Homo sapiens: one gene and its partners. The protein of the gene in region 2 interacts with the protein of the main gene of each other region in a pairwise test. Each region holds a gene or a part of one and is shown on either strand. Other genes may lie near its edges. The genes, in order: PDE4DIP, ARHGAP45, RINT1 and ZUP1.

Evidence for each region.
Region 1: the proteins of ARHGAP45 (region 2) and PDE4DIP interact in binary tests that used the Homo sapiens proteins (3 or more experiments, as listed by UniProt).
Region 3: the proteins of ARHGAP45 (region 2) and RINT1 interact in binary tests that used the Homo sapiens proteins (3 or more experiments, as listed by UniProt).
Region 4: the proteins of ARHGAP45 (region 2) and ZUP1 interact in binary tests that used the Homo sapiens proteins (3 or more experiments, as listed by UniProt).

The regions. Positions count from the first base shown.
Region 1 is NC_000001.11:149,001,405-149,008,427, forward strand, and holds part of PDE4DIP (myomegalin), read left to right. Parts: intron 1-186; coding exon 187-622; intron 623-1,445; coding exon 1,446-1,638; intron 1,639-2,206; coding exon 2,207-2,326; intron 2,327-3,504; coding exon 3,505-4,033; intron 4,034-5,796; coding exon 5,797-6,032; intron 6,033-7,023. UniProt on the Homo sapiens protein: Functions as an anchor sequestering components of the cAMP-dependent pathway to Golgi and/or centrosomes.
Region 2 is NC_000019.10:1,077,156-1,084,178, forward strand, and holds part of ARHGAP45 (rho GTPase-activating protein 45 isoform 1 precursor), read left to right. Parts: intron 1-240; exon of another isoform or gene 241-611; coding exon of another isoform or gene 612-701; coding exon 702-890; intron 891-2,547; coding exon 2,548-2,685; intron 2,686-2,772; coding exon 2,773-2,963; intron 2,964-3,099; coding exon 3,100-3,224; coding exon of another isoform or gene 3,225-3,308; coding exon 3,309-3,392; intron 3,393-3,526; coding exon 3,527-3,631; intron 3,632-3,736; coding exon 3,737-3,909; intron 3,910-4,394; coding exon 4,395-4,583; intron 4,584-4,668; coding exon 4,669-4,806; intron 4,807-5,684; coding exon 5,685-5,911; intron 5,912-5,987; coding exon 5,988-6,198; intron 6,199-7,023. UniProt on the Homo sapiens protein: Contains a GTPase activator for the Rho-type GTPases (RhoGAP) domain that would be able to negatively regulate the actin cytoskeleton as well as cell spreading.
Region 3 is NC_000007.14:105,549,180-105,556,202, forward strand, and holds part of RINT1 (RAD50-interacting protein 1), read left to right. Parts: intron 1-875; coding exon 876-986; intron 987-1,081; coding exon 1,082-1,307; intron 1,308-2,390; coding exon 2,391-2,528; intron 2,529-5,848; coding exon 5,849-6,048; intron 6,049-7,023. UniProt on the Homo sapiens protein: Involved in regulation of membrane traffic between the Golgi and the endoplasmic reticulum (ER); the function is proposed to depend on its association in the NRZ complex which is believed to play a role in SNARE assembly at the ER.
Region 4 is NC_000006.12:116,665,762-116,673,256, reverse strand, and holds the start of ZUP1 (zinc finger-containing ubiquitin peptidase 1), read left to right. Parts: upstream 1-4,490; 5' UTR 4,491-4,691; exon of another isoform or gene 4,692-5,112; intron 5,113-6,049; 5' UTR 6,050-6,064; coding exon 6,065-6,623; intron 6,624-7,495. UniProt on the Homo sapiens protein: Deubiquitinase with endodeubiquitinase activity that specifically interacts with and cleaves 'Lys-63'-linked long polyubiquitin chains. Shows only weak activity against 'Lys-11' and 'Lys-48'-linked chains.

The DNA of each region.
Region 1 (7,023 bases), on a different chromosome or scaffold from region 2:
AGTCTCTTACTTTTCCTGAGCCTTGGCTTTCTTGTATATAAAATTAGGGGGCTGTGGTAGGTCTCAGGTTGCTTCATGCTCTGGGGTAAGTCTGAGTTAATTGCGGGCTGAGATGTTGGTAAGAGGTAGTATTAGGAACTGTTGTGAGGACCAGACCTAGCCCTCAATTAAGTGTGTTTCCTGCAGGAACACCATGCTGAGCCTTTGCCTTGAGAATGCGGAGCTGAAAGAGCAGATGGGAGAAGCAATGTCTGATGGATGGGAGATCGAGGAAGACAAGGAGAAGGGCGAGGTGATGGTTGAGACTGTGGTAACCAAAGAGGGTCTGAGTGAGAGTAGCCTTCAGGCTGAGTTCAGAAAGCTCCAGGGAAAACTGAAGAATGCCCACAATATCATCAACCTCCTCAAAGAACAACTTGTGCTGAGTAGCAAGGAAGGGAATAGTAAACTTACTCCAGAGCTCCTTGTGCATCTGACCAGCACCATTGAAAGAATAAACACAGAACTGGTTGGTTCCCCTGGGAAGCACCAACACCAAGAGGAGGGGAATGTGACTGTGAGGCCTTTCCCCAGACCCCAGAGCCTTGACCTTGGGGCTACCTTCACAGTGGATGCCCACCAAGTAAGTGTGGGCTTAGATTGAGTGAAAAACAATTGGAGAAGGGCTTGAGATGACAGTGTTTACCTTAAAACATTCTCCCATATGAATCAGGAGGTACCAAGAGAAGGGTCTCTTTGTACCACAAACAATAATAGTAATATTCTGCCTACATTCAGCCTTTAGAAAGGCTTTTATAACATAAATATTTCTTGAGTACTTAATTTTTCAGATAACACACTAGGCATTGGCATGGGGCAATAAAACCAATGGCTGCCCCTGAGATACTTAATATTGTCGGGAAAGATGGCACACAAACAGGTAATTTTAACAGGATGTGGTAACTGCTGTAACATAGGGATGCATCAGGTTATGAGGCAGCCCAGACAAGTGGTATGTAATGACATCCCTTATCACTGCCATTTTTTTGTCACAGCTCATCACAGGTGTCTGTTCCTGGGCTTCAGATGGGTTACTGGGATCCTCTTTAGGGAAGGAGCCATGCTGAAGATTCAGTGAAATGGAGAATACAGGGATTCTGAGAGAATCAATGGGACAGAATGTGAGGGGAGATGAGTGGTCTCTTTTTGACCACTGAGAAAACATTTCCTGAGAGCTCCTCTGTAGACTTGATTGGTGCTGTGCTGTGTGCTGTGGATACAGATATGAAGAAAACATTATCCCAGCGCTCCAGGAGCTCCATCTGGAAAGCAAGTCACTGCCAAATGGCATGAGAAGTGCTGTGACAGACTTGAGTAAAGTCCACAGGGTTCAGAAGGGGCGGTGGTCGTCACTGCATGGGGGTGACCTCAGACTGTCCTGATCCCTGTATTGGCCCCTTTCACAGTTGGATAACCAGTCCCAGCCTCGTGACCCTGGGCCTCAGTCAGCGTTTAGCCTACCAGGGTCCACCCAGCACCTGCGCTCCCAGCTGTCACAATGCAAACAACGCTATCAAGATCTCCAGGAGAAGCTGCTGCTATCAGAAGCCACTGTCTTTGCTCAGGCTAACGAGCTGGAGAAATACAGAGTTATGCTTAGTAAGTAACTATGACTTACTAGTAAAGAAAACTAGCCTATATGTCTTATAAGTTCTGTATGTTCTATACCGACATAACGTGGTTATTGAGCACACGAAGTGTGGCTAGTGCAACTTGGACATTTGGTTTTATTTAATTTTAGTTGATGTAGTATAAAGTGGCCATATGTGGCTGCTAACTACCTTATTGGACAGTACAGGTCTAGGGTCTTGGGACTCTAAATTAGTTCAGCTCCATTCAACATTTATTGAACCCCTGCGGATAAAGCACTTGCCAGCTTCAATGGGGCTGCTAGAGATGATAGTGTACAATCCCTGACTTACAGATATCTGGTCCCAACTAAAGCCTGGGTTATCTGAAGGGGAGATAATGGCAAATGCAGGCTCCTCCTTTGGAAAGAAATTCTGCTTCCTGGAGCTGGTGATCTCTTCTCCCACCAGTTCAGAGAAGCTTCTCTCCCACTGTGGATCTGCCTTCCGTGCCTCAAAAGGTTAGGGTATGTGCCATTGAGGCTGAGGGCATATGTGGGAAATTCAGACATTCTGTAACACCTGCTTCTCTTCCCAAGCAGGTGAATCCTTGGTGAAGCAGGACAGCAAGCAGATCCAGGTGGACCTCCAGGACCTGGGCTATGAGACTTGTGGCCGAAGCGAGAATGAGGCTGAACGGGAGGAAACCACCAGTCCTGGTAAGAGCACAGGGTGTGGGGCTCACCCCTCCCTGGAGTCAGCTGTCACATTTGGATGCTGTTGGCCAATTCCACACCTGACAAGTATTGGGGAAGAGGAGGACAGGAGGTTAATAGGAGAAATCTTACCCAAAATGAGGCTGAGTATAAGTTTGAATTTCTACAATTAGTTTTTGGCATACTGCTAATAACAATAATAATATAAAATTCTATCCAACTGATTATTATAGAAATACTAAGGCCTACTTAGAGACCAGATAAGGTTTTAGAAACATGCAAGCCATAAATTAAAAATAATTTTGTTTTGCATTATAAAAAGACTACAACTATAGGGCCACCCACCACATTGAAAACCAGAAGAGAAGAAAAACACAATCTCTCTCATTCTTGAGGCAGTGTAGTGTGGCAGTTAAGAGACAAGATCCTGGGGCCAGACTGGTTGGTTCAAATCCCAGTTTGAAAACTTTCCTATGTCCCAGTTTCTTCATGTGTTAAAATAGTAATAAAGGAACTACCTACCCCATCAGGTACTAAGGTCAATTAAATGAGTAAATTCTTATAAAATGCTTTAGAACAGTGCCTGGCATCTGGTAAAATGCCATGGATTAGTTCTCATTCTGACTACCACTGCCCTAATACACTGATGTTAACATGCTGATATATTTATTTGAAGCCTTATTTTCCTATGCCTATTTTTCATACAGTTGTAACCCAATAAACTTTTAAATTATAGTAAAATTTAAAGAGCATTAAACTTTCAGCATGCAGTAATAGCTTGTCCTACATTCTTGTGGCCATCCTAAATAGATAAGGCCATGTTAATGTCTTAAGAAACACCAGTGTGTGTGGAATGAACACAGGACATTGGAGGATTTGAATTCTGGCTCTGCCATGTGCTAGTTTGAGTGATCTAGAACAAGCTAGTTTACCACCTCTCTTTAAGTTTTGGTTTCCCAGTCAGTAAAATAGAAAGTGATGAAACCTAACTTGTAGGTATAAGGAAGATAAGAAATATTGTATTTGAATGCCTAGTACAGTGTCAGGGTTGAATAAAGTACTACTTCAACTTTTTCCCTAGTAATTATTGTCCTCATGACCAAACCTGCCTCCTCTCAAAGGCAGTGGCCACAACAGCACATCCAACTTTTATTTAGGAAGACATCTTTGTCTTTTTTCAGAGTGTGAGGAGCACAACAGCCTCAAGGAAATGGTCCTGATGGAGGGGCTGTGCTCTGAGCAGGGACGCCGGGGCTCAACACTGGCTAGTTCCTCTGAGAGGAAGCCCTTGGAGAACCAGCTAGGGAAGCAGGAAGAGTTCCGGGTATATGGAAAGTCAGAAAACATCTTGGTCCTACGAAAGGACATCAAAGATCTGAAGGCCCAGCTGCAGAATGCCAACAAGGTCATTCAAAACCTCAAGAGCCGGGTCCGGTCCCTCTCAGTTACAAGTGATTATTCGTCTAGTCTGGAAAGACCCCGGAAGCTGAGAGCTGTTGGCACCTTGGAGGGGTCTTCACCTCATAGTGTCCCTGATGAGGATGAGGGGTGGCTGTCTGATGGCACTGGGGCTTTCTACTCTCCAGGGCTTCAGGCCAAAAAGGACCTGGAGAGTCTCATCCAGAGAGTATCCCAGCTGGAGGCCCAGCTCCCAAAAAATGGACTAGAAGAGAAGCTGGCTGAGGAGCTGAGATCAGCCTCGTGGCCTGGGTAAGGATGGCACTGTTTGGGTACTTTCTTGATTGAAAATGTGTAAGTTCATGCTTGGCGTAGGGTAGCTCAGGCAGTTGGAAGAAAGAACATGTCTGGGTATTCACAGGGACACTGATTTAAATGGTAGATACAGGTCTGCAGAAAAGACAGGTAGGCAACCAGGAGGGCATAGGATGATGTTCCAGTATCTGGGAGATACCGGGTCTCAGGGATTTCCTCTTAGGGATATATTAGTAAAGATGGTATAGTATAGTAGTAATACTGGAATCAGACTACCTACCTCTGGTGCTTACTACCCATGCAACCTTCTTAACCTTTCTGAGCCTTTGTCCTTACCTATTAAATGAGGATGATAAGAGAACCCATCTCAAAGGGTGGATATTAGGTTTAAATGAATTAATACAACTGCTGACCAGGCGTGGTGGCTCATGCCTGTAATCCCAGCACTTTGGGAGGCCAAGGCAGGTAGAACACCTGAGGTCAGGTGTTCGAGACCAGCCTACCCAACACGGTGAAACCCCATCTCTACTAAAAATACAAAGATTAGCTGGGCATGGTGGTGCACACCTGTAATCCCAGCTATTCGGGAGGCTGAGGCAGGAGAATCGCTTGAACCTGGCAGGTGGAGGTTGCAGTGAGCCGAGATGGCACCACTGCACTCCAGCCTGGGTGACAGAGCAAGAGTCTGTCTCGGAAAAAAAAAAAAAAGAATTAATACAAGTGCTTAGAATAGTGCCTAGCATATGTTAAGCTCTCAATGCTATTTGCCATAGTTATAAGTGTTATTGATACTTAGTGTTGAAAACACAGACATTCATCTTGGTGTGTCCTGGTTATCTATTGCTAAGTAATAACCACTCTAAAACTTAGTGACTTCAAACAACACTTTATTATGCTTCATGGTTCTATGGTTTGACTGGGCTCAGCTGGGTGGTTCTCACTTAGGGTCTCTTGTTTTGGGTCCCATCAGTTGATGGTATGAGCGTTTAAATGATGGCCATCATTGCAAAATGTAGTCAGCCACAGTATCGTAACATAGAAGAAATTCAGGCATCAGGTGGTGGTTAAAACAGAAGGCATGAAAGGTTCTATCTAGACTTAGGATGAAATGATGCTAATTATTCATTGAGTAACTGCTGTGAATCTATGTGATACTGGTGCTGTAAGGGATGTAAAATGCAGAACTATGTTTATTCTCACAGACCTTATGATTTATCTAGGGACATATAATTAACACATGTATAACAGTTGAAGAACAGTGACATACTAAATTTTTTTTTGATACGGAGTCACTCTGTCATCCAGGCTGGAGTGCAGTGGTGCCGTCTTGGCTAACTACAACCTCCACCTCCTAGGTTCAAGCAATTCTCCTGCCTCAGCCTCCCGAGTAGCTGGGATTACAGGCATGTGCCACTATGCTCAGCTCATTTTTTTTGTATTTTTAGTAGAGGCAGGGTTTCACCATATTGGCGAGGCTGGTCTCAAACTCCTGACCTTGTGATCTGCCTGCCTTGGCCTCCCAAAGTGCTGGGATTACAGGCGTGAGCTACCACGCCCGGCCCGTACTAAGTTTTTTAATGCAATACTTTATCAGGGTAGAATTTACTCTTAAATACCTCCTATGGCTTATGTGCCAGAATTCAGCTTGGGGGAGTTCCTTAGAGATGTTCTCATAGAAATCTCTACAGAAGCCCCCATAACTCCATAAGTTAGCTTCCACTCTTTCCATACTTACACTTTCCTCTTCTGTCCTGCATTAGGAAATATGATTCCCTGATTCAGGATCAGGCCCGGGAACTGTCTTACCTACGGCAAAAAATACGAGAAGGGAGAGGTATTTGTTATCTTATCACCCGGCATGCAAAAGATACAGTAAAATCTTTTGAGGATCTCCTAAGGAGCAATGACATTGACTACTACCTGGGACAGAGCTTCCGGGAGCAACTCGCCCAGGGAAGCCAGCTGACAGAGAGGCTCACCAGCAAACTCAGCACCAGTAAGTTGGCCACAGGGCTTTGGAATACTCTCAGTCACCCCCACAGTTCCAGCCCCTGGTGGCCACCACATCTCCACTGCAACTTTTTATCCTAAGGTCCTGTTTCTATTTCATTTCCTGGGGCTAATACAGGATCAAGACTGCTCAGTGGGGAGCATGGAGAGGAAAACACAGGGCTGGAGATGCCATGGTTACAACTATAGAAACTTCACCACTAATGGAATGTGACCTGTGGGGCAGGGGCAGCATCTCTCTGATGCTAAGAGGGAGTAGGGGACATGAGATGGAAGGGCTTTGTTATAGGAGGAAGAGCCCTGAACCAAGAACTACAAGACTCAAGCTCTGGCCTGGATGCTGCCACCAACTCGCTAAATGCCTTATCCTTGTGGTGTCTCCATTTATGGCATGGTAATGTGCATGCAGGTACTCCACATATGGATAAAGCGCCATGCTCTTTTATACATGGTTTAGGCACTGGCTGCAGTAGTTCAAGGGCTACATTGGTTATTATTGGGGTCTTCTACTCAGAATTTCCAGCGACTATCCAAGGGAGTAAAGTAGGATCAGACTTGGGAGCCACCCAGCCCACCACCTGGTGGCAGATGCAGAGGTGGGGCAGGGCTTCTTGTCATCTCCTCAGAGACCAGTGCAGGTTCTGCATGAAAGCTGTGGTGGGGCATATGCATTGGGGAGCTAGTCTGCAGCAGGACATGGAGGCTGGAGTGTCCCGCAGGGCAGCTGGGCAAGGGCCTCATGATTAATGGAACAAAAGACATTATAAATGTTTTACCCTGATTTAGGGCAGAGGAAGTCATCATGGTGACCGGCAGGTCAGGGACAGTGGGGTCACTTCTCTAGAGACACAAGCTGAGGTATCCCAGAATAACTGTTCTGGATGCACACATGAAATGCTCACTACTCTGTCTCCAGATAGGCTCCTGCATTTGTAATGCGGGAAGTGGGACCAGCCTAATTTCTTATCGTCTCTTTC
Region 2 (7,023 bases):
TTCCTGCCTGGGCGGCTTCTCTGTTCTCGTCTGTGAGGAGGGAAGTGAAAGCAAAAGAGCCCGGAGACGCTCCCGTGGGGGCTGGTGTGCGTGTCTGCAGAGGCTGCCGTGTGAGCCTCTGTGCAGAGCTTGGCTGCACCTCAGCTTCCCGGGCTGCAGAGTGGGCACACAGGACACCCATTTCTCCGAGTGTCCTGTTACGGGTGCCTCCTCCCGTTCTTTTTTTTTTTTTTTTTTTTGAGCTGGAATCTCTGTTGCCCAGGCTGGAGTGCAGTGGTGCATGCAATCTTGGCTCACTGCAACCTTCGCCTCCTGGGTTCAAGCTGTTCGCGATTCTAGTGCCTCAGCCTCCCGAGTAGCTGGGATTACAAGCGTGCACCACAATGCCCGGCTAATTGTTTTAAATTTTGGGTAGATACGGGGTTTCACTATGTTGGCCAGGCTGGTCTCAAACTCCTGACCTCAAGTGATCCACCTGCCTCGGCCTCCCAAAGTGCTGGGATTACAGACGTGAGCCACCGCGCCCGGCCACTCCTCCTGTTTTTCCGCTGCCGATTGTTGTGCAGGGTCCTCTGCATGCCCAGCTGGGCCATGGGGCCTTGCTGAGAGAGATGGGGGTGGGGAGGAAAGGAGGAGCTGGGGAGACTGAGTCCCATCCGAGGATAGGGTTGGAACTGGCCTCCTGGCTCCCACACCCACAGCAAGAGGCGGAGTCCAACCTGCGCAAGGCCAAGCAGGGTTACGTGCAGCGCTGCGAGGACCACGACAAGGCTCGCTTCCTCGTGGCCAAGGCGGAGGAGGAGCAGGCTGGCAGCGCGCCGGGAGCAGGCAGCACGGCCACCAAGACCCTGGACAAGCGGCGGCGGCTGGAGGAGGAGGCCAAGAACAAGGTGAGGGCGGGTGGAGGCAGGGCTGGAGGTCCCTGGAGGAGGAGATCCAATGCTTGGTGTGACATTTACTACCTCCAGACCTTTGTTTTTGTTTTTTTGTTTTTTTGTTTGTTTTTGAGACGGAGTCTTGCTCTGTCGCCCAGGCTGGAGTGCAGTGGCACAGTCTCGGCTCACTGCAAGCTCCGCCTCCCGGGTTCACGCCATTCTCCTGCCTCAGCCTCCCGAGTAGCTGGGACTACAGGCGCCCGCCACCACGCCTGGCTAATTTTTTGTATTTTTAGTAGAGACGGGGTTTCACTGTGTTAGCCAGGATGGTCTCGATCTCCTGACCTCGTGATCCGTCCACCTCGGCCTCCCAAAGTGCTGGGATTATAGGCATGAGCCACTGCGCCCGGCCAATTTGTTTTTTGGAGACAGAGTCTCATTCTGTTGCCCAGGCTGGAGTGCAGTGGTGAGATCTCACTGCAACCTCCGCCTCCCAGGTTCACACAGTTCTCTGCCTCAGCCACCCTGCCACCAAGCCCAGCTAATTTTTTTGTATTTTTAGTAGACACAGAGTTTCACCATCTTGGCCAGGTTGGTCTCAAACTCCTGACCTCATGATCCACCCACTTCGGCCTCCCAAAGTGCTGGGATTACAGGCATGAGCCACCGCGCCCGGCCCCGATTTTTAAATTATTATTATTTTTGAGACAGTGTCTTGTTCTGTCACCCAGGCTGGAGTGCAGTGACGTGATCATGGCTCACTGCAGCCTCTACCTCCTGGGCTCAAGCAATCTTCTCGCCTCAGCCTCTAGAGTAGCTGGGACCACAGGCGTGTGCCGCCACACCCAGCTAATTTAAAAAAATTCTTGGCCGGGCGCAGTGGCTCACGCCTGTAATCCCAGCACTTTGGGAGGCCGAGGCAGGTGGATCACAAGGTCAGGAGATCAAGACCATCCTGGCTAACAGGGTGAAACCCCGTCTCTACTAAAAATACAAAAAATTAGCTGGGCGTAGTGGTGGGCGCCTGTAGTCCCAGCTACTCGGGAGGCTGAGGCAGGAAAATGGCATGAACCCGGGAGGTGGAGCTTGCAGTGAGCCGAGATCGCGCCACTGCACTCCAGCCTGGGCGACAGAACGAGACTCTGTCTCAAAAAAAAAAAAAAATTCTTTATAAAGATGGGGGTCTCAGGCTGAGTGTGGTGGCTCACACCTGTAATCCCAGCCCTTTGGGAGGCTGAGACGGGCAGATCATATGAGGCCAGGAGTTCGAAACCAGCCTGGGCAACATGGTGAAACCCCTGTATCTCTACTAAAATTACAAAAAATTAACCGGGTATGGTGGGTGGGGGGCACCTGTAATCCGTTACTTGGGAGGCTGAGGCAGAATTGCTTGAACCCGGTAGGTGGAGGTTGCAGTGAGCTGAGATCGTACCACTGCACTCCAGCCTGGCCTACAGAGCAAGACTCCATCTCAAAAAAAAAAAAAAAAAGATGGGGAGGGTCTCACCATGTTGCTCAGGCTGGTCTCGAACTCCTGGCCTCAAGCAAGTCTCCCACTGTGGCCTCCCGAGGCGCTGGGATGACAGGCGTCAGCCCCGCCTCCCTGAGGTTTCTGTCTGAGTCCTGCACCCCGGGCTGAGGCCTCTCTCTGTGCGCCCCGCCCCCACCGCAGGCGGAGGAAGCTATGGCCACCTACCGCACCTGCGTGGCCGACGCGAAGACGCAGAAGCAGGAGCTGGAGGATACCAAGGTGACGGCGCTGCGGCAGATCCAGGAGGTCATCCGGCAGAGCGACCAAACCATCAAGTCGGTGCGTGGGGTGCTCCGGCCGCCCGGGCGGGGATGGTGGACCGGGCGGCCTCCTCCTGACCCCTCCGCTCTCCGGTGCCGCCCGCAGGCCACGATCTCCTACTACCAGATGATGCATATGCAGACGGCGCCGCTGCCCGTGCACTTCCAGATGCTGTGTGAGAGCAGCAAGCTGTATGACCCAGGCCAGCAGTACGCCTCCCACGTGCGCCAGCTGCAGCGGGACCAGGAGCCCGATGTGCACTACGACTTTGAGCCCCACGTCTCCGCCAACGCCTGGTACCGCCACCCAGCTGCCCTGTCCCCGGCGCACAAGGCCCTGCCTGGGAGCCGGGCTTCCCTCTGTCGGGGGCATGAAGATGAAGCTGTCTTGCCCCCCATCACCTCCCCTCCTTTTCCCGGTTTCTTCCACTAGGTCCCCCGTCATGCGTGCCCGGAAGAGCAGCTTCAACGTGAGTGATGTGGCGCGGCCGGAGGCTGCCGGGAGCCCCCCAGAAGAAGGCGGGTGCACTGAGGGCACACCTGCCAAGGACCACAGGGGTGAGTGTCCGGCGGGGCCCAGGGGCGGACGCTGGCTCCCTGCGACCCACCCTGGCCCTTCACCAGAGACGCCTCTTTCTCCAGCCGGGCGAGGACACCAGGTTCACAAGTCATGGCCGCTCTCGATCTCAGACTCGGACAGTGGGCTGGACCCCGGCCCTGGCGCAGGTGAGGGAGGCTCTCTGGCGGGCTGGGGTGTGGAGCTGCCTCCTCTCCTGAGCCTCAGGGTTTCATCACCCACCGGGGTGATGGAGGGGGCCCCCCTGGCTGGGGGAGTCTGAACAGTCCTGATTCCCGCCCAGGGGACTTTAAGAAGTTCGAGCGGACGTCATCCAGTGGTACCATGTCGTCCACGGAGGAGCTGGTGGACCCAGACGGTGGAGCCGGGGCTTCAGCCTTTGAGCAGGGTGAGGGTCCCCTGACGGGGCTGGAGAGAGAGGGGGGTTTGGACACAGTCCATGGGCCTGGCCCTGAGCTGCCTTGGTGACACCGGCTGCCTGTGCTGCCCGCAGCTGACCTCAACGGCATGACCCCCGAGCTGCCGGTGGCCGTGCCCAGTGGACCGTTCCGCCACGAGGGGCTGTCCAAGGCGGCCCGTACTCACCGGCTCCGGAAGCTCCGCACGCCCGCCAAGTGCCGCGAGTGCAACAGCTACGTCTACTTCCAGGGTGCTGAGTGTGAAGAGGTGAGTGGGACGCCCCGACGGACAGCTGGGAGCCTTCGGGAGCCTTTGGGGTGCCCAGCACCGCCGGCCTGTGTGCCCTCAGGAATGTCCGGCCCAGAGCAGGGAGCAGTCGGACGCCTTTGGAAGGAAGCGAACGGAGGGGGTGGGGTGGGCTCTTTTAGTTCTGGGGAGCAGGGTTGGCTCTCTGAGGCAGCGAGGCAGGGGGCAGACCTGGAGGGTGAAGAGTCCTGGGGCTGTGGCCAGAAGACCTGGAGGGCAAAGGCCCTGGAGCTGTGTCCAGAAAACCAAGGGGCGGGAAGGAGAGGAGGCCACAGGGCAGGCGGGATCACCCCTGGGGTGGAAGCCACGAGCCACTGTCCAGCTTGTGTTTGCAGAAGCTGCCGTGTGGGGGCTGTGAGCGCCCCGGGGAGGTGGGGTGGAGCCGCTGGGGGCTGCGCTGAGCTGGGCGCCCCGGGGCTGGGCTCACTCACTCTGGCCGCCCCCAGTGCTGCCTGGCCTGCCACAAGAAATGTCTGGAGACGCTGGCCATACAGTGCGGGCACAAGAAGCTGCAAGGCCGCCTGCAGCTGTTCGGCCAGGACTTCAGCCACGCGGCCCGCAGCGCCCCCGACGGCGTGCCCTTCATCGTCAAGAAGTGCGTCTGCGAGATCGAGCGGCGGGCGCTGCGCACCAAGGTGAGGCGGGGGAGGAAGCGGCTCACAGCGAGGAGGCGGGAGTGGGCCGAGGCTGATGGGCCTCCCCACCCCCGGGCTCCCGCAGGGCATCTACCGGGTCAATGGGGTAAAGACACGCGTGGAGAAGCTGTGCCAGGCCTTCGAGAACGGCAAGGAGCTGGTCGAGCTGTCGCAGGCCTCGCCCCACGACATCAGCAACGTCCTCAAGCTCTACCTGCGTCAGGTGAGACCCACCGGTGGTGGCCAGGCAGAGCCTGGAAGGGGCGTAGCCAGGCAGGAGGAGGCGGGGTGGGGGTCCGGGAGCTGGAGCAGGACTGAGCTGGAGCAGGACTGGCGCAAGCGGGGGCCTGGGGAGGACAGGGTGGGCGGGACAGTGCCTGGCAGGGCAGGGCTGAGGCTGGGGGCGTGGTCACGGTAGGAGCGAGGCGGGGCCAGTTCTGCGCCGAGGCACGGACAGGGACAGGAGGGGCGGGGTGGGGCTTGGTCAGCACGTGGCAGGGGTGTGGCCACGGCAGAGGCACACCTGACGCTGTGCGGGGGCGGGGCCGGGGCCGGGGCTCGGTGGGGCGTGGCCAGAGCAAGATGGGCGTGTTCAGCGCTTGGCAGGGACCCGTATGAGGCTAGGGGCGGGGCTGAGGCTAGACAAGTGCGGGGCTGGCGGTGGGGCCTGGGCTTGGTGGGGCGAGGCTGGGGCCAGGGGCGTGGTCATCCCCGGGGAAGGGCGGGACTGGGGCTAGGGGCGTGGTCATGTCTGGGGAAGGGCGGAGCTGGGCTGGGATGGGAGTGGGACCAGCACTTCGCAGGTGGTTGGGAAGGGGTCAGACTATGCTGAGTGGAGCCGGAGCTCGTTAGGGTACCTGCAGGGCGGGGCGCGCGTGGCCAGAGCGAGAAAGGGAGTGGAGCTGCGGGCGTGGCCCGGGTAGGAGGGGCAGGGCTCACGCTGGGCTGGGAAAGGGGACTGACGCCGCTCTGGGTGGAACCCGAGCTCGGTGGGGTGTGGCCAGTGCTCTGTGGGGGTGGGGCTGAGGCTGGGGGCGTGGCAGGCACACGTGGGGGCTGGGCCAGGCCCACCAACACCTGCTGACCCTTGACTCTGCGCAGCTTCCCGAGCCGCTCATCTCCTTCCGCCTCTACCACGAGCTCGTAGGGCTGGCCAAGGACAGCCTGAAGGCAGAGGCCGAGGCCAAGGCGGCGTCCCGGGGCCGGCAGGACGGCTCGGAGAGCGAGGCAGTGGCGGTGGCCCTGGCAGGTCGGCTGCGGGAGCTCCTGCGGGACCTGCCGCCTGAGAACCGGGCCTCGCTGCAGTACCTGCTGCGTCACCTACGCAGGTGAGTCCCGGCATATGGAGTGGAGGGCGCGGGGTCCCGGGAGCCGCTCAGCACCTGGCCCCTGCCCACCCCGCAGGATCGTGGAGGTGGAGCAGGACAACAAGATGACCCCCGGGAACCTGGGCATCGTGTTCGGGCCCACGCTGCTTCGGCCACGGCCCACCGAGGCCACCGTGTCCCTCTCCTCCCTGGTGGATTATCCCCATCAGGCCCGCGTCATCGAGACTCTCATCGTCCACTACGGCCTGGTCTTCGAGGAGGAGCCGGAGGAGACCCCCGGGGGCCAGGTGAGGGTGTGGGCCTGACCGGGGCTGGCCACTCGGGGCTTGGGGAGCAGGGGGCGCTGCTGGGGACAGTCGTTGTCGGATGAAGCCCAAGGAACCACAGGGAGATAATTTGGTTTGGACAGGGCTGTTCGGGAGGCCACTGTCTTTTTGTGTCTTTTATGCAAAAAACTCAGCGAGGTCTGCATTGAATCTGGCAGAGGTGCAAAGGCTCTGCGGCCGCCCCTCCACTCTCCCTTGGGGCTGGCCTTGGGCCTCACCCTTCACCCCCAGCTTCCTTCCCCGTTTCCCATCCCGGTGCTGCCTGCAGCCACAAGCTCCACGCTGGCCCGGTGTCCACAGCCTGCCCGAGCTGCCACTGCACTCCGCCGCGAGGTCAATTCCCCGCTTCAGATTTTCTTTTCTGGGAGTTGTAGTTTCGCTCCTGCTGCCCAGGCTGAAGTGCAATGGGGCGATCTCAGCCCACCACAACCTCCGCTTCCCAGGTTCAAGCGATTCTCCTGCCTCAGTCTCCCGCGTAGCTGGGACTACAGGCGCCGGCCACCACACCCGGCTAATTTTTGTATTTTTAACAGAGATGGGGTTTCACTTTGTTGGCCAGGCTGGTCTCGAACTGCTGACCTCAAGTGATCCGCACCCCCCTTGGCCTCCTGAAGTGCTGGGATTACAGGTGTGAGCCACTGCACGCGGCGTCTCGTATTCTTTCAATCCATCTTCCCTGGGTGTTTAGGGGCTGCGGTTTCTCGGGTTTGCTCTTGGCTGAGGACAGACCGCCTGGGCAACAGCGGGTGTCAGTAGCTGTTACGGGCTGTGTGGGTGGGTTTGTTA
Region 3 (7,023 bases), on a different chromosome or scaffold from region 2:
TTTCACCATATTGGTCAGGCTGGTCTGGAACTCCTGACCTCAGGTGATCCACCTGACTTAGCCTCCCAAAGTGCTGGGATTACAGGAGTGAGCCACTGCGCCTGGCATGTACTTGGTATTTCTGCTCTTAAACCTGTATAAGACATGCGTAGTTTTTGTAATGCAGACTAGCAATTTTTTTTTTTTGGAACGAAGTTTCACTCTTGTTGCCCAGGCTGGAGCGCAATGGTGTGATCTCGGCTCACTGCAACCTCTGCCTCCCGCGTTCAAGCGATTCTCCTGCCTCAGCCTCTTGAGTAGCTGGGATTACAGGTGCCCACCACCACGCCCAGCTAATTTTTGTATATTTAGGTGAGACGGGGTTTCACCATGTTGACCAGTCTGGTCTTGAACTTCTGACCTCAGCTGATCCACCCACCTCGGCCTCCCAAAGTGCTGGGATTACAGGCATGAGCTGCCACGCCTGGCCAGCAATTTTTTTCTTGATTTACTTTTTGAAAATAAAAACCATAAGAAAATAATATTAAAATTATTTTCAAATGCTATTTCAAAAAATATAGGCCATCAGTTCTTTGTAATACTCATCATTTTACATATTATTGAAGTGCTAGGTTTTAAATATATATGGCATTGTAAATTTATGAGTTTATTGACTTAAGTCATATTATTGAAATTTGTTGGGAGTACATTAGCAAACATTTGATTATTAAGCCTTGCAGGAGTTTAAAATTTGGAGTAGAAATTGTGCTCTTACATACAGGAATTTTCAACTAATTTTTATAAGTGTTGTGCATATACAATTAAATAGAACCATGTAATTGTAACTTTCTAATTGGAATGACTTAAGAATTCAAACTATTTTCCTCCTTCCTTAGCCAGAATGGTACTTGGCTCAAGTACTTATGTGGATTGGAAACCATACTGAATTTCTGGATGAGAAGATTCAGCCAATATTAGACAAAGTAGGCTCTTTGGTAAACGCAAGGGTAAGAGACTCAGTCATAAGTGTTTCTGTTTTAGAACTGTATGTGTGCATGGATAACTTTTTATTTACATACCTCATGTTTGTGTATTTTTTTAGCTTGAATTTTCTCGGGGCCTTATGATGCTGGTTCTTGAGAAGTTAGCCACTGATATTCCTTGTCTGCTATATGATGACAATCTCTTCTGTCATTTGGTGGATGAAGTACTCTTGTTTGAAAGGGAGCTACACAGTGTTCATGGCTATCCTGGCACTTTTGCTAGTTGTATGCATATTCTATCAGAGGAAACCTGTTTTCAGAGATGGTTGACGGTGGAGAGAAAATGTAAGTGCTGATGTGGCCAGATGGTAGGGAGATATGTCTGTTTCTGTGGGTATACATTTTTGATATTTTTCTTCTCCAGTTCTAAATAGGAACTAGAGCCATTTGAAATTTCCTTTTCAGGGTTTTCTGTTTCCTTCAGAGATAATCTTTTCTTTACTTCACATGAAACTTCCATTTTTCCTGAAATTACACTCTACATATTTCTAGAGTGGAATAGTCAAGCCAGTGGGGTGTTTGTTTTATAGATTTTATCATATAATTTATTTTATTTTTATTTATTTATTTTGGGACAGACTCTTGCTCTGTTGTCCAGGCTAAAGTGCAGTAGTTTGATCTCAGCTCATTGCAACCTCCACCCCCTGCGTTCAAGCGATTCTCCTGTCTCAGCCTCCCGAGTAGTTAGGATTACAGGCACGCACTACCACGCCTGGCTAATTTTTCTGTTTTTAGGAGTGACAGGGTTACAACATGTTGGCCAGGCTGGTCTGGAACTCCTGACTTCAAGTAATCCACCTGCCTTGGCCTCCCAAAGTGTCAGAATATTTTATTTTTTTATTTTTGAGATAGGGTCTCACTTTGTCACCGAGGCTAGAGTGGAGTGGGCCGATCATGGCTTACTGCAGCCTCGACCTCTGGGGCTCAGGTGATCCTCCTGCCTCAGCCACCCCAGTAGCTGGGAGTATAGGTATATGCAAGCCATGCCTGGCTACTTTTTGTATTTTTTGTAGAGATGGGGTTTCCCTGGGGTTTTGCCCAAGCTGGTTGTGAACTCCTAGACTCAAGCAATCCACCCACCTTGGCCTCCTGGAGTGCTGGGATTACTGGTGTGAGCCACCGTGCCTGGCCAATAGAATATTTTTTACTGTAGCTTATCTAGTCAACATAACTATTTTCAGAATTTGGGGATGGGAGTAAAGTATCCTGTTTAAAGCATTAATTAAGTTAAATTTAGTACAACCAGTGGGATATTGTAGGTTTGTTTCTTTTTTATAGAAAAGCCATCATTCCTAAAAAATTACAAGTTGAATAATTAGGAACGACTGTAACTACTTAATTGACATAATTGTTTTGTCTGCTTATCAGTTGCTCTTCAAAAAATGGACTCAATGCTTTCCTCAGAAGCTGCCTGGGTATCGCAATATAAGGATATCACTGACGTGGATGAAATGAAAGTTCCAGATTGTGCAGAAACTTTTATGACTCTACTCTTGGTTATAACTGGTAAGTATGTCTTTTAAGATATGACTTTGTTTTAAAAGTACTGTTTTCACGTGGTAGTTTTTAAAGTAGCTCAGTAGGCTGGGTGCAGTGGCTCATGCCTGTAATCCTAGCACTTTGAGAGGCTGAGACGGGCAGGTTGCTTGAGCCCAGGAGTTCGAGAACAGCCTGGGGTACATGGTGAAATGCCCTCTCTTCCGAAAAAATACAGAAATTAGCCAGTTGTGGTGGTGTGTGCCTGTAGTCCCAGCTACTTGGGAGGCTGAGGTGGGAGGATTTTTTGAGCATGGGAGGTAGAGGTTGCAGTGAGCCATGATCACGCCACTGCAGTCCAGCCTTGGTGACAGAGTGAGACCCTGTCAATAAAGTAATCAATAAATAAGTGGCTCAGCAAATTAATATTATATGATGGTTGTTATCTTCAAATTCAGTTTCTATATTGGTAGAAATCTAACACAATATTCTAACTTTTGGGTTTTTAATAATTTAAGGATTTAAACATTGGTATACATGAAGGAAAACTTCCTGAATAATTACACAAAAACAATTAAATAGGAATTTAATTTTATTATCCAAACTGTCTTGCTATTGGGCTTTTTAGGTGTCTTCAGTAAATGGTGATTGGCCTATATTTTAAATATTGTCTTGATCTTGATTTATCAAAGATTGCAGAAGAGAGTAAAATAATGAAGTAATTTTAAGGATTGGAGTAGTAATAGGAACTTTTGTTACAGTGCAGGGATTCTCTGGCTGGAGGGTAGCCTAGCATCCTCTGGCCCTGGTTGGTCTTTAGCCAATCACGTTGCCCCCTTGTGGGCCTGCTTGTTGTCCAGGTGCCACTGGACCCTCATTGCCACCATCCCTGGCCCTCTTCACCTTCGTCAACCACTAGCCTGTCCGTTTCTTAGGCTTGTCTGGTAACCTGAAGAAGTATCATTCCAGCCCAGTCAGTAAATAATTCCTTTTTTTTTTTTTTTTTTTTTTTTTGAGATGGAGTCTCACTCTGTCACCCAGGCTGGAGTGCAGTGGCATGATCTCGGCTCACTGCAACCTCTGCTGCCCAGGATCAAGCAATTCTTTTGCCTCCGCCTCCCAAGTAGCTGGGATTATAGGCACCTGCTGCCACGCCCAGCTAATTTTTGAATTTTTAGTAGAGACGGGGTTTCACCATCTTAGCCAGGCTGGTCTTGAACTCCTGACCTTGTGATCCACCTGCCTCGGCCTCCCAAAGTGCTGGGATTACAGGCATGAGCCACCGTGCCCAGTCATCATTCCATATTTTTAACTATAAGAAAAATATGAAAAATACTAAGACAAAAAAATTAAGGAAAATTCATGTCTCTTAAAAACTTTTTATTCAGAAAATTTTCAAACATACACAAAAGTAGGATAATATGATGAACTCTCAGGTACCTATTGCCAAAGTTTAAAGCAATTATCACTTTTCTGTTATATTTTACTCCTCAATTTTTTTTTTCTGGAGTATTTCAAAGAAAATTTCAGACATCTCATCATGTCAATTGTAAATTCTTTTTTTTGAGACAGAATTTCGCTCTTGTCACCCAGGCTGGAGTGCAATGGCGCAATCTCGGCTTACTGCAACCTCCGCCTCCTGGGTCCAAGCAATTCTCCTACCTCAGCCTCCTGAGTAGCTGGGATTACAGATGCCTGCCACCATGCCTGGTTAATTTTTTTTTGTATTTTTACTAAAAATACAAAAATTTACAGGCAGTTGGCCAGGCACGGTGGCTCACACCTGTAATCCCAGCACTTTGGGAGGCTGAGGTGGGCAGGTCACGAGGTCAGGAGATCGAGACCATCCTGGCTAACACAGTGAAACCCCGTCTCTACTAAAAATACAAAAAAATTAGCCAGGCATGGTGGCGGCTCTACTAGAGATGGGGTTTCATATTGCCCAGACTGGTCTCGAACTCCTGACCTCAGGTGATCCACCTGCCTCGGCCTCCCAAAGTGCTGGGATTACAGGCGTGAGCCACCATGCCTGCCTGTAAATTGTCTTTTTTTTTTTTCTTTGAGACAGAGTCTCGCTCTGTCGCCCAGGCTGGAGTGCTGTGGCGCAATCTCGGCTCACTGCAAGCTCCACCTCCTGGGTTCACACCATTCTCCTACCTCAGCCTCCTGAGTAGCTGGAACTACAGGCACCCGTCACCATACCCAGCTAATTTTTTTTTTTTTTTTTTTTTTTTTTTTTGAGATGGAGTCTCACTCTGTCGCCCAGGCTGGAGTGCAGTGGCGCCATCTCAGCTCACCGCAAGCTCTGCCTCCCGGGTTCACGCCATTCTCCTGCCTCAGCCTCCCGAGTAGCTGGGACTACAGGCACCCGCCACCACACTCGGCTAATTTTTTGTATTTTTAGTAGAGATGGGGTTTCACCGTGTTAGCCAGGATGGTATTGATCTTCTGACCTCGTGATCCACCCGCCTCAGCCTCCCAAAGTGCTGGGATTACAGGCGTGAGCCACTGTGCCCGGCGAATTTTTTTGTATTTCTAGTAGAGACAGGGTTTCACTGTGTTAGCCAGGATGGTCTTGATCTCCTGACCTCGTGATCCACCCACCTCGGCCTCCCAAAGTGCTGAGATTACAGGTGTGAGCCACCGTGCCCGGCCAACTGCCTGTAAATTCTTAAATGTGTATCTTTTAATTTATTGAAGTTCTTTCTTTTTTAAAAAAATGCTGTTTATTTGTGTTGAAGAAACTGTCATTTTTTTTTCTTTCTTTTTTTTTTTTTGTTAGATGGAGTCTCACTCTGTTGCCTAGGCTGGAAAGCAGTGGTGCCATGTTGGCTCACTGCAACCTCCACCTCCCGGGTTCAAGCAATTCTCCTGCCTCAGACTCCCAAGTAGCTGGGATTACAGGCACACGCCACTACTGCCCGGCTAATTTTTGTAGTTTTGGTAGAGATGAGGTGTCACCATGTTGGCCAGGCTAGTCTTGAACTCCTGACCTCAGTTGATCCACCTGCCTTGGCCTCACAAAGTGCTGGGATTACAGGCGTGAGCCACCACGACTGGCCAAAACTGTCATTTTTATGTATAATTTTTTCATTTGCCTTTTTGAAAACTTGAGGTATAGTTTACATACAGTGTAATGTGCAGATCTTATTTGTATTGTTCAATGAGTTTTGGCAAATGTATATACTTTTGAAACTCACATCCTTAAGAGAGCTCAGAAATAAATCCATTCTTGACTACTGGTCAATTGATTTTTGACAAAAGCACTGAAGCAGGACAGTAGGGAAAACTTATAACTATATCATAGATGGTACCAAAACCTTCATATGTCTTAATAACTTTTTCCACAGACAGGTATAAAAATCTTCCCACAGCTTCCCGAAAGCTTCAGTTCCTGGAGTTACAGAAGGACTTAGTAGATGATTTTAGGATACGATTAACACAAGTGATGAAAGAAGAGACTAGAGCTTCCCTTGGCTTTCGATACTGTGCAATTCTTAATGCTGTGAACTACATCTCAACAGTACTAGCAGATTGGGCTGACAATGTTGTGAGTTAATATGCTTTTATATTAAGTAATATATACTAGTTCGAACTATTTTATTAATACTTTTCAAAATGTTGAATCTATTGCAAGCAAAAATAAACATGCTAGACAGAACCATAGTGCCATAATTAAAAGGTGTAATTAAAATACACATTTTTCTCAATCAAATCTCAAGTAGTTAAATAGTCCTGATATTTTAATGTATTTAATCATTGGAAAGGCAAGCAAGCCTTTCATGAAATAGTTGTTTATAGAGTGAACCATACTTGGAAATATTCATGTATGGTAATTGCAATCACAGGAAGAGCTAAGATTAAATAATGATGTCAAAAGCAATCCAGGACTTTAAGGAAAATAAAAGAATAATGTTTAATACCTCTTGAATGTCTTCAAAACATGACAGATTATAAAGAGTCATGAAAATAGGAAGAAACATTTAAAGTTTTAATTGTTTCATACATTAAAAATCTATTTGGCTGGGTGCAGTGGCTCATGCTCTTAATCCCAGCACTTTAGGAGGCTGAGATGGGAGAATTGCTTGAGCCCAGGAGTTGGAGACCAACCTGGGCAACATAGGGAGACCCCATTTCTCCAAAGAATAAAAAATAAAATAAAATTAGCCAGGTGTGGTGGCATATGCCTGTAGTCCGAGCTACTTGGGAGGCTGAGGTGGGAGGATCACTGGAGCCCAGAAATTCATGACCAGCTGTGCAACATAGTGAGACCCTGTCTCTACAAAAAATAAAAATAAGAAACTAACATTTCATGTATCAAATTTTCAAATATATGCAAGAGTAAATAGAATAGGAAAATGAACTTCTGTGGCGTGGCTATCACTCAACTTCTTTTTTTTTTTTTTGTGACAGAGTTTCGCTCTTGTTGCCCGGGCTGGAGTGCAATGGTGCGATCTCGGCTCACTGCAACCTCTGTCTCCTGGGTTCAAGGGATTATCCTGCCTCAGCCTCCTGAGTAGCTGGG
Region 4 (7,495 bases), on a different chromosome or scaffold from region 2:
CTGTATCATTGGATAACTTCCTAAAAGTTGACATCTGTTAGGTCTTTCTCTTGGGACAATTGATTTCTCTGGGGAGGAATTTTCCAACCTCCTGCCTTGGAGGCAGAAATCACATATCAAGATGTGATGGGGGAAAAGGAGCAAGAGGTTCATAATTTAGTATTTAGCCTTCCCTATTTCCCATTTTCAGTCCAGTGCCTTTACCCTAAGGATAGGGTCAAGCCTTTGAACCCCCAGGATAGGGTTCATAGCTGGTTTTTTTGGTTCGTTTTCTTCATGAACTAAATCTGTAGTCTTCTATCTGGAAGGGAAAGAGGAGTCTCATGGCAACCTAGCTGTATTAGAGTTCTTCAGAGAGACATAACCAATACTATATACGAGAGGCAATTTATTAGGGAATTGACACATGATCACAGAGGTGGAAGTCCCACAATAGGCCATCTTGCAAGCTAGAGCACCAGAGAAACTGGTAATGTGGCTCAGTCCCAGCAGCCTCAGAACCAGGGAAGCAGAGGGTTTGGCCCCCACTCTGAGGCTAAAAGCCCAAGAGTTCCTGGGAAGCCACTCGTGCGAATCCCAGTGTCTAAAAGATGAATATGGTGCAATCTGATGTCCAAAAGCAGGAAGGAAAAAGGTGTCTTGTTCCAGAAGGGAGAGAGCAAAGAGAGAGAATTCCCTCTCTTTCCTGTTTGCCCCAGCCTAGCCCTCAGCTGACTGTATGGTGCTTGCCACACTGAGGGTAGGTCTTCCTCTCTCAGTCCACTGACTCACAGGTCAATCTCCTCTGGAAACACCCTCACAGATACAGCTAGAAACAATGCTTCACCAGCCATCTAGGCATCCCTCAATTCAGTCAAGTTGGTAGTGACGGGGTTTCACCATATTGCCCAGGCTGGTCTCAAACTCCTGAGCTCAAGCAATCTGTCTGCCTCGGCTTCCCAAAGTGTAGGATTACAGGTGTGAGCCACCATGCCTGGCCCCATACCTTCCACTTTCTTTGCTTCTTCCCTCATTTGGCGGGAGCTTCCTGGGAAATAATAAGAAATAATGTTTCAGGAGAAATTAACCATCACACTGGTGATGGAGAAAATCTAGAGTTGGAGTTCTAACTGTTCCTTATTCAGACTTTCAGTAAAATGATCCTTTATTTAGTTCCAAATGTCACCATCATTTTTAGAAGTATCTTGTGTTTAATTTCTGGAATTTTCAGATTTCTGGGAAGGAGGAGTGTATTAAGATGGAGTAGGGACCCTACTTAGGGGCCCGTGGGCAACCCCCAAGCATGGAAATAAAGGAAAATATTGAGTTCCTTCAAGGAAAATTCCAGGAACCTAGCTAGCGCTGAGAAATAAATGAGCAATTTGATAAACAAAAAGGTAATAGTAGCTTAAAACATTGGCCCAAAAAAGTCAGGAGATGTTTTATTCCCTATAGAAACTTAAGATAACATTTTAACATATGTCCCTGGGTTGTTTTCCAGAAACCCAGATCCCCCACCAAACAGATCTACTGTCCAACATGATTTGACCCCTGATAATGGGAAACTGAAGACTAAATCCTGATCGCTGTTCTTTGTTCTGAATTTCTTCCTGAGGGGCCTGGAGGAGATCACACCCCTGAGCGAGAGCTAATATTCTTTTCTGCTGATCCCAAATTTTTAGACAAAGCTTTGCCTCCTTAGCAAATCAAACGTCAGAAAATCTTTGAATCCACCTGTAACCTGTGCCCCGAACCACTTCAAGATGTCCAGCCTTTTAAAATCAAACCAACGTATAGCTTCCGTGTATTGATTTATGACGTCGCCTGTAACCTCTGCCTCCTCACCTTTAAAAACTCTTACCTGTAAGCAATGTGGGAGTTCAGGTCTTAAGCATGAGCTACTCAATTCTCCTTCCTTGGTGCCCTACAATAAATGCCTCAACTTTCTCTTGCTGCTATCCCAGTGTCAGTGTTTGGCTGTGCTGTGCTGGGCAAGCAGACCCCAGCTGCTGTGCTGGGCAAGCAGAAACCCATACAAGTCAAGACAGTATGACTTGACTTGGTTTTTGTTGACATCGGTTCTGAGTTAAGTTCGTTATTAATCATTCATCTTTTTTTAGCTTTCAAAGTTTTGTAAAATCTCATTAGCTGTTAGTAGTATTATTTTTATTTTCCTGCTATCATTTTAATAGATTTTGAGAGGCAGAGAAATATAAATTTACATGTTTAATCTTCCATGTTTGTCCACAAATTTCCAGAACGATTTTTTTTTTTGAGACAGGTTCTCATTCTGTCGCCCAGATTGGAGTGCAATGGTGCCATTATGGCTCACTGCAGCCTCAACCTCCTGGGGCTCAGGTGATCCTCCCACCTCAGTCTCCCGAGTAGCTAGAATTACAGGCCACATCACCACGCCCAGCTAATTTTTGTATTTTTTTGGTTGAGACGGGTTTCTCCATGTTGCCCAGGCTGGTCTGGAATTCCTGGGCTCATGCGATCTGCCCGCCTCTGCCTCCCAAAGTGTTGGGATTACAGGCGTGAGCCACCGCGCCTAGCCAATTTTTAAAAACATACTATTTATCATCAGATAACATCACCCTCCTATTTAAATACCTCACTAGTTTTCTACCAGGTCCTACATGATTTGGCCCCTGTCTACAACCCTAACCTCATCTTGTAATCATTTTTCTCCTTACCACATTATGCTCTGGTCAAAAAGTGTTCTTTTTGCTCCAGCCTTAGGCCTTCGTTCTTGTTATTTTATCTGTCTGAAATGCTATTTCCCCTGTTGGTGTAAGGTTTGTTCATCAGCACACTCAACCCTTCATCAAGACCTTTTCTAAACATTCGTATCTCTATAATCCAGTTTTCTTTTCTTTCTTTCTTTCTTTTTTTTTTTTTTTTTTTGAGACTCAGTCTCAAAAATCTATTGCTCTGTCACTCAGGCTGGAGTGTAGTGGCACGATCTCAGCTCGCTGCAACCTACGCCTCCCGGGTTCAAGCAATTCTCCTGCCTCAGCCTCCCGAGTAGCTGGGATTACAGGCACCTGCCACCACGCCCAGCTAATTTTTGTATTTCTAGTAGAGACGGGCTTTCACCATGTTGGCCAGGCTGGTCTTGAACTCCTGACCTCAAATGATCTGCCCGCCTCGGCCTCCCAAAGTGCTGGGATTACATATGTGAGCCACTGAGCCTGGCCAATCCAGTTTTATTTTCTTCATAGCACTTATCATGATCAGTTAATTTACTTTTTATTTCCTCTACCTCACCAGCATGTAAGCCTCAAAAATCCTGAATTTTGTGTATTTTGATTACTGCTGCAGCTCCTGTTGCAAGCAAAACGCCTTTCTAATAGACACTCTTTAAATATTTGTTGAATGAAATAAAGCCTGAATGACAAGATATTTGTGATTTTGGGCTAACATGGTGGCTCACACTTTGGGAGGCCGAGATGGGAGGATCATTTGAGGCCAGGAGTTCGAGGCTGCGGTGAGCTATTTTAGCCACTGTGCTCTGGCCTGGGTGACAGAAAGAGTCCTCCTCTCTAAAAATACATACATACGGCCGGGCACGGTGGCTCACGCTTGTAATCCCAGCACTTTGGGAGGCCGAGGGGGGCGGATCACGAGGTCAGGAGATCGAGACCATCCGGGATAACACGGTGAAACCCCATCTCTACTAAAAATACAAAAAATTAGTCAGACGTGGTGGCGGGCGCCTGTAGTCCCAGCTACTTGGGAGGCTGAGGCAGGAGAATGGCGTGAACCCGGGAGGCGGAGCTTGCAGTGAGCAGAGATGGCACCACTGCACTCCAGCCTGGGCGACAGAGCAAGACTCCGTCTCAAAAAATATATATATATACATACATACATACATACAAACCAAGATATTTGTTATCTTGTAACCTTGAGGAAAGAACCTGGTATCCTTTACCTTCGGTGCATAGCTGGGAGCTTGATACCTAGCAGCATTATAAACCCTTTATTGATACTAAAATAGAGTGCTACTCAGCAGGCCCTAGTGTAGACTGCTATTTGCCCCAGGACCTGCCCTGTGAACTCATTCAGATTAAGTATGAATGACCTCAGAGCCCGGTTTTCTCTCCTAGCAATTGAGTGGCAGGAAACTCGATGGGAGAAGGAAAAACTCGGAAATGGGAGGAATGCAAAAATGACTACATCTCTCAGGAGATCGAGACCATCCTGGCTAACACGGTGAAACCCCGTCTCTACTAAAAATACAAAAAATTAGCCAGGCATGGTGGCGGGCGCCTGTAGTCCCAGCTACTCGGGAGGCTGAGGCAGGAGAATGGCGTGAACCCGGGAGGCGGAGCTTGCAGTGAGCCGAGATCGCGCACTGCCCTCCAGCCTGGGCAGCAGAGCGAGACTCCGTCTCAAAAAAAAAAAAAAAAAAAAAAGACTACATCTCCCAGAATGCACTGCATAGAGACCGGCGTGGAGCGGCGCATTCTGGGATTACTTCTTTTCCGTGGGAGTAAGGAAGTGCTTTTGAATGAGGTACTGAGGGCCAAGGTGTTGGAAGTTCCTAATTCTTTCCTCGGTTAACTGTGAAACTCTGCGTATTGGGAAGGCCTGGCCTCAGTCATCAGGCCAGGAGAGGTACTGGACGCCGCGCACGCACTCGTCTGCCAGCGAGGCCCAAAGGGGAAGCCTAGCGGAGCTCAGTGTGGCAGCTGCTGGCCTCTGGGCCGGTAAGAATTGATGGTCCCCTCCCTTATTCCCCAGGCCCAAAGCTTTGACCCAGTTAGTGCCTGCTAGTTTCGTGTGCCTGGCTTGTGCCTTTGGCGCGGAACGTTTGGGAGACTCGGCCTTGCGGTCTTCTGACCTCACCCACCACGTACCTAGCTTGGCACTGGGTCCTTCATGCCTCTCACTCGCTTCCTCTGAGGCACCTGGGTACTCTCTTGTCTCTTACCCGCTTAATCTGAGTCCATGTCCAAGTTCATCATTCTGTGTCTGACCGTGTCCCAGCCACCGGAAGAGAAGAAACTCCGGGTGTGACATTAATCCCACTGGGGGCTCGGGAGAACTGCCTTCTAAAATCAGAGACTGTATCCATTTGTCTGGAGAGAAATGAAAAAAATAAGGACAATGTAGGGAGGTATTTTAAAGGTAAATTTATTTAAATGAAGTGATAGTGTCATTACTTTTCCTGTTTGATTTTAAATAGTCTTTAGCTGAACGATGACCTGTAGTAGGAAGGTGGTGGCGAAGTGATTGCTTTTTTTAAAATTATTTTTTTAACACTTTTATGTCAGTAGTCAGTACTTTATTTGTCCATAAAATCCAAAAATAACTACCTTTGGATTTTACAGTAGTCTTTGACTGAACCTCAGAGAGATGAGATTCCTTACCCAAAATGATGAATCTGAAATTATTACCCAGTTCTCTTGACTCTGGAATAAGTGCTTTTTTCTACTATACCACTTCTGCTTTTATTCTTGGGGCTGAGAGTACAGGCTGTGGAGCACGACGGGGTTGGCATTTTGGCTTCCACCTTTTTCTGCTTGTGGTGACCTGTCTGAGCCAGAATTTCTTTATGTGTAGAGCGATAATAATAGTACTTAAATTACAATAATAGCACTTAAATAGCACTTGATACATGTAAGACTCTAAGTTTACAGTGTTAAACTCTACTTGTAAGATGTGTTTATTTACCTCCTCAATATAATCAGCTTCAGTATTCAGTATTTAGATATATCAGTTGATAAATAGGTTTCTTCTCTTCATTTTTTTCTTACCTGATTTATCTTACCTGGACAATTTTTTAAACGTTATTTTTTCTCCACCTTGGGCCAGAGACATTTTTTGAAATATTTTATTTTTAAAATTACTTGTATTCATTATTATTGCCTTTTTTTAAAAAAAAATAAATGAAATTTTGGTTGATATTTATAAATAAGTTTTTGTATTTGAGGAACAGTAAGTACATTGAAAACTTCTTCATCAAAATAATCCAGCGTTAAAGACCAAGTAATTGTCTCAAATCATTTTATGAAACACATTTTTTCTTCAAATCTTTGAAACCTAATGTTATGTTCTTTTCTAGCTACTTGTCAATACCATGCTTTCCTGTAATATTTGTGGTGAAACAGTAACCTCAGAACCAGACATGAAAGCTCACCTAATTGTTCACATGGAAAGTGAAATTATATGTCCATTTTGCAAGTTGTCAGGTGTGAATTATGATGAAATGTGTTTTCATATCGAAACAGCTCATTTTGAGCAGAATACACTTGAAAGAAACTTTGAGAGGATAAATACAGTACAATATGGAACTTCAGATAACAAGAAAGACAACACCCTACAGTGTGGAATGGAAGTTAATTCAAGTATTCTTTCAGGTTGTGCATCTAATCATCCAAAAAATTCAGCTCAAAACCTGACTAAAGATAGTACTTTAAAACATGAAGGCTTCTATTCAGAGAACTTAACTGAATCTAGAAAATTCCTGAAAAGTAGGGAAAAACAGTCCAGCCTGACCGAAATAAAAGGATCTGTTTATGAAACAACATACAGTCCTCCTGAATGTCCATTCTGTGGAAAAATAGAGGAGCACAGTGAAGATATGGAAACTCATGTGAAAACAAAGCATGCCAATCTTTTAGACATTCCATTGGAAGGTAAAGTTTTCATTTCATTATAAATTATAAGTTTACAGCCTCAATTTAATATGTGGTATTTTAAAAGTTGGTTTGTAAGTCAGCTTACTACAGATGTGTTTTGAAATCCATTTTATGTCTATAACATTTTTCATTTGCTGTTACTGAAATATAAAAGTACATTATGGAAAAGAATTTTAATGCAGATATAAAATGTTTCAGCTACATTGAGAGTAGTTTTGGAACTTTCTGTCTAGTTTCCAGAGGGTATTCTTTTTATTGTCACTAACCCAGTAGCATCTGGACTGTCCTGGACTCTCTGACTTTGCATTGAGTTCTATTTTGACTCCATTATTCTGTTATGATTGGAGAACAAACTCTCTGTGATATCAGTTCTTTTAAATTTGTTGAGGCCTGTTTTATGGCTCAAGACACGAGCTATCTTGGTCATGTTCTGTGGATACTTGGGAAAAAAAAGTGTATTCTGCTTTGTTGGGTGGAATGTTATATGTATGTCACTAGATCCTGTTGTTTATGTTCAGATTATTTATATCCTTGCTTGTTTTCTATAGTAGTACTGTCTAGTAGTTCTATCAATTTTTGAGAAGGGGTTGTTGAAATCCCTGATTATAATTGTAAATTTATCTATTTTTCCTTTCAGCTCTGTCAGGTTTTGTTTCATGTATTTTGAGACTCTATTGTTGGTGTGTACACATTTAGGATCTTATGTCTTTTTCTTATTGTTGAACTTTAAGAATTTGTGGAGCCAGGTGTTGTGGCTCATGCCTGTAATCCCAGCAAGTTGAGAGTCCGAGGTGGGCAGATCCCTTGAGTCCAGGAGTTCGAGACGATCCTGGGCAATGTGGCAAAAGCTCGTCTCTTCAAAAAAAAAA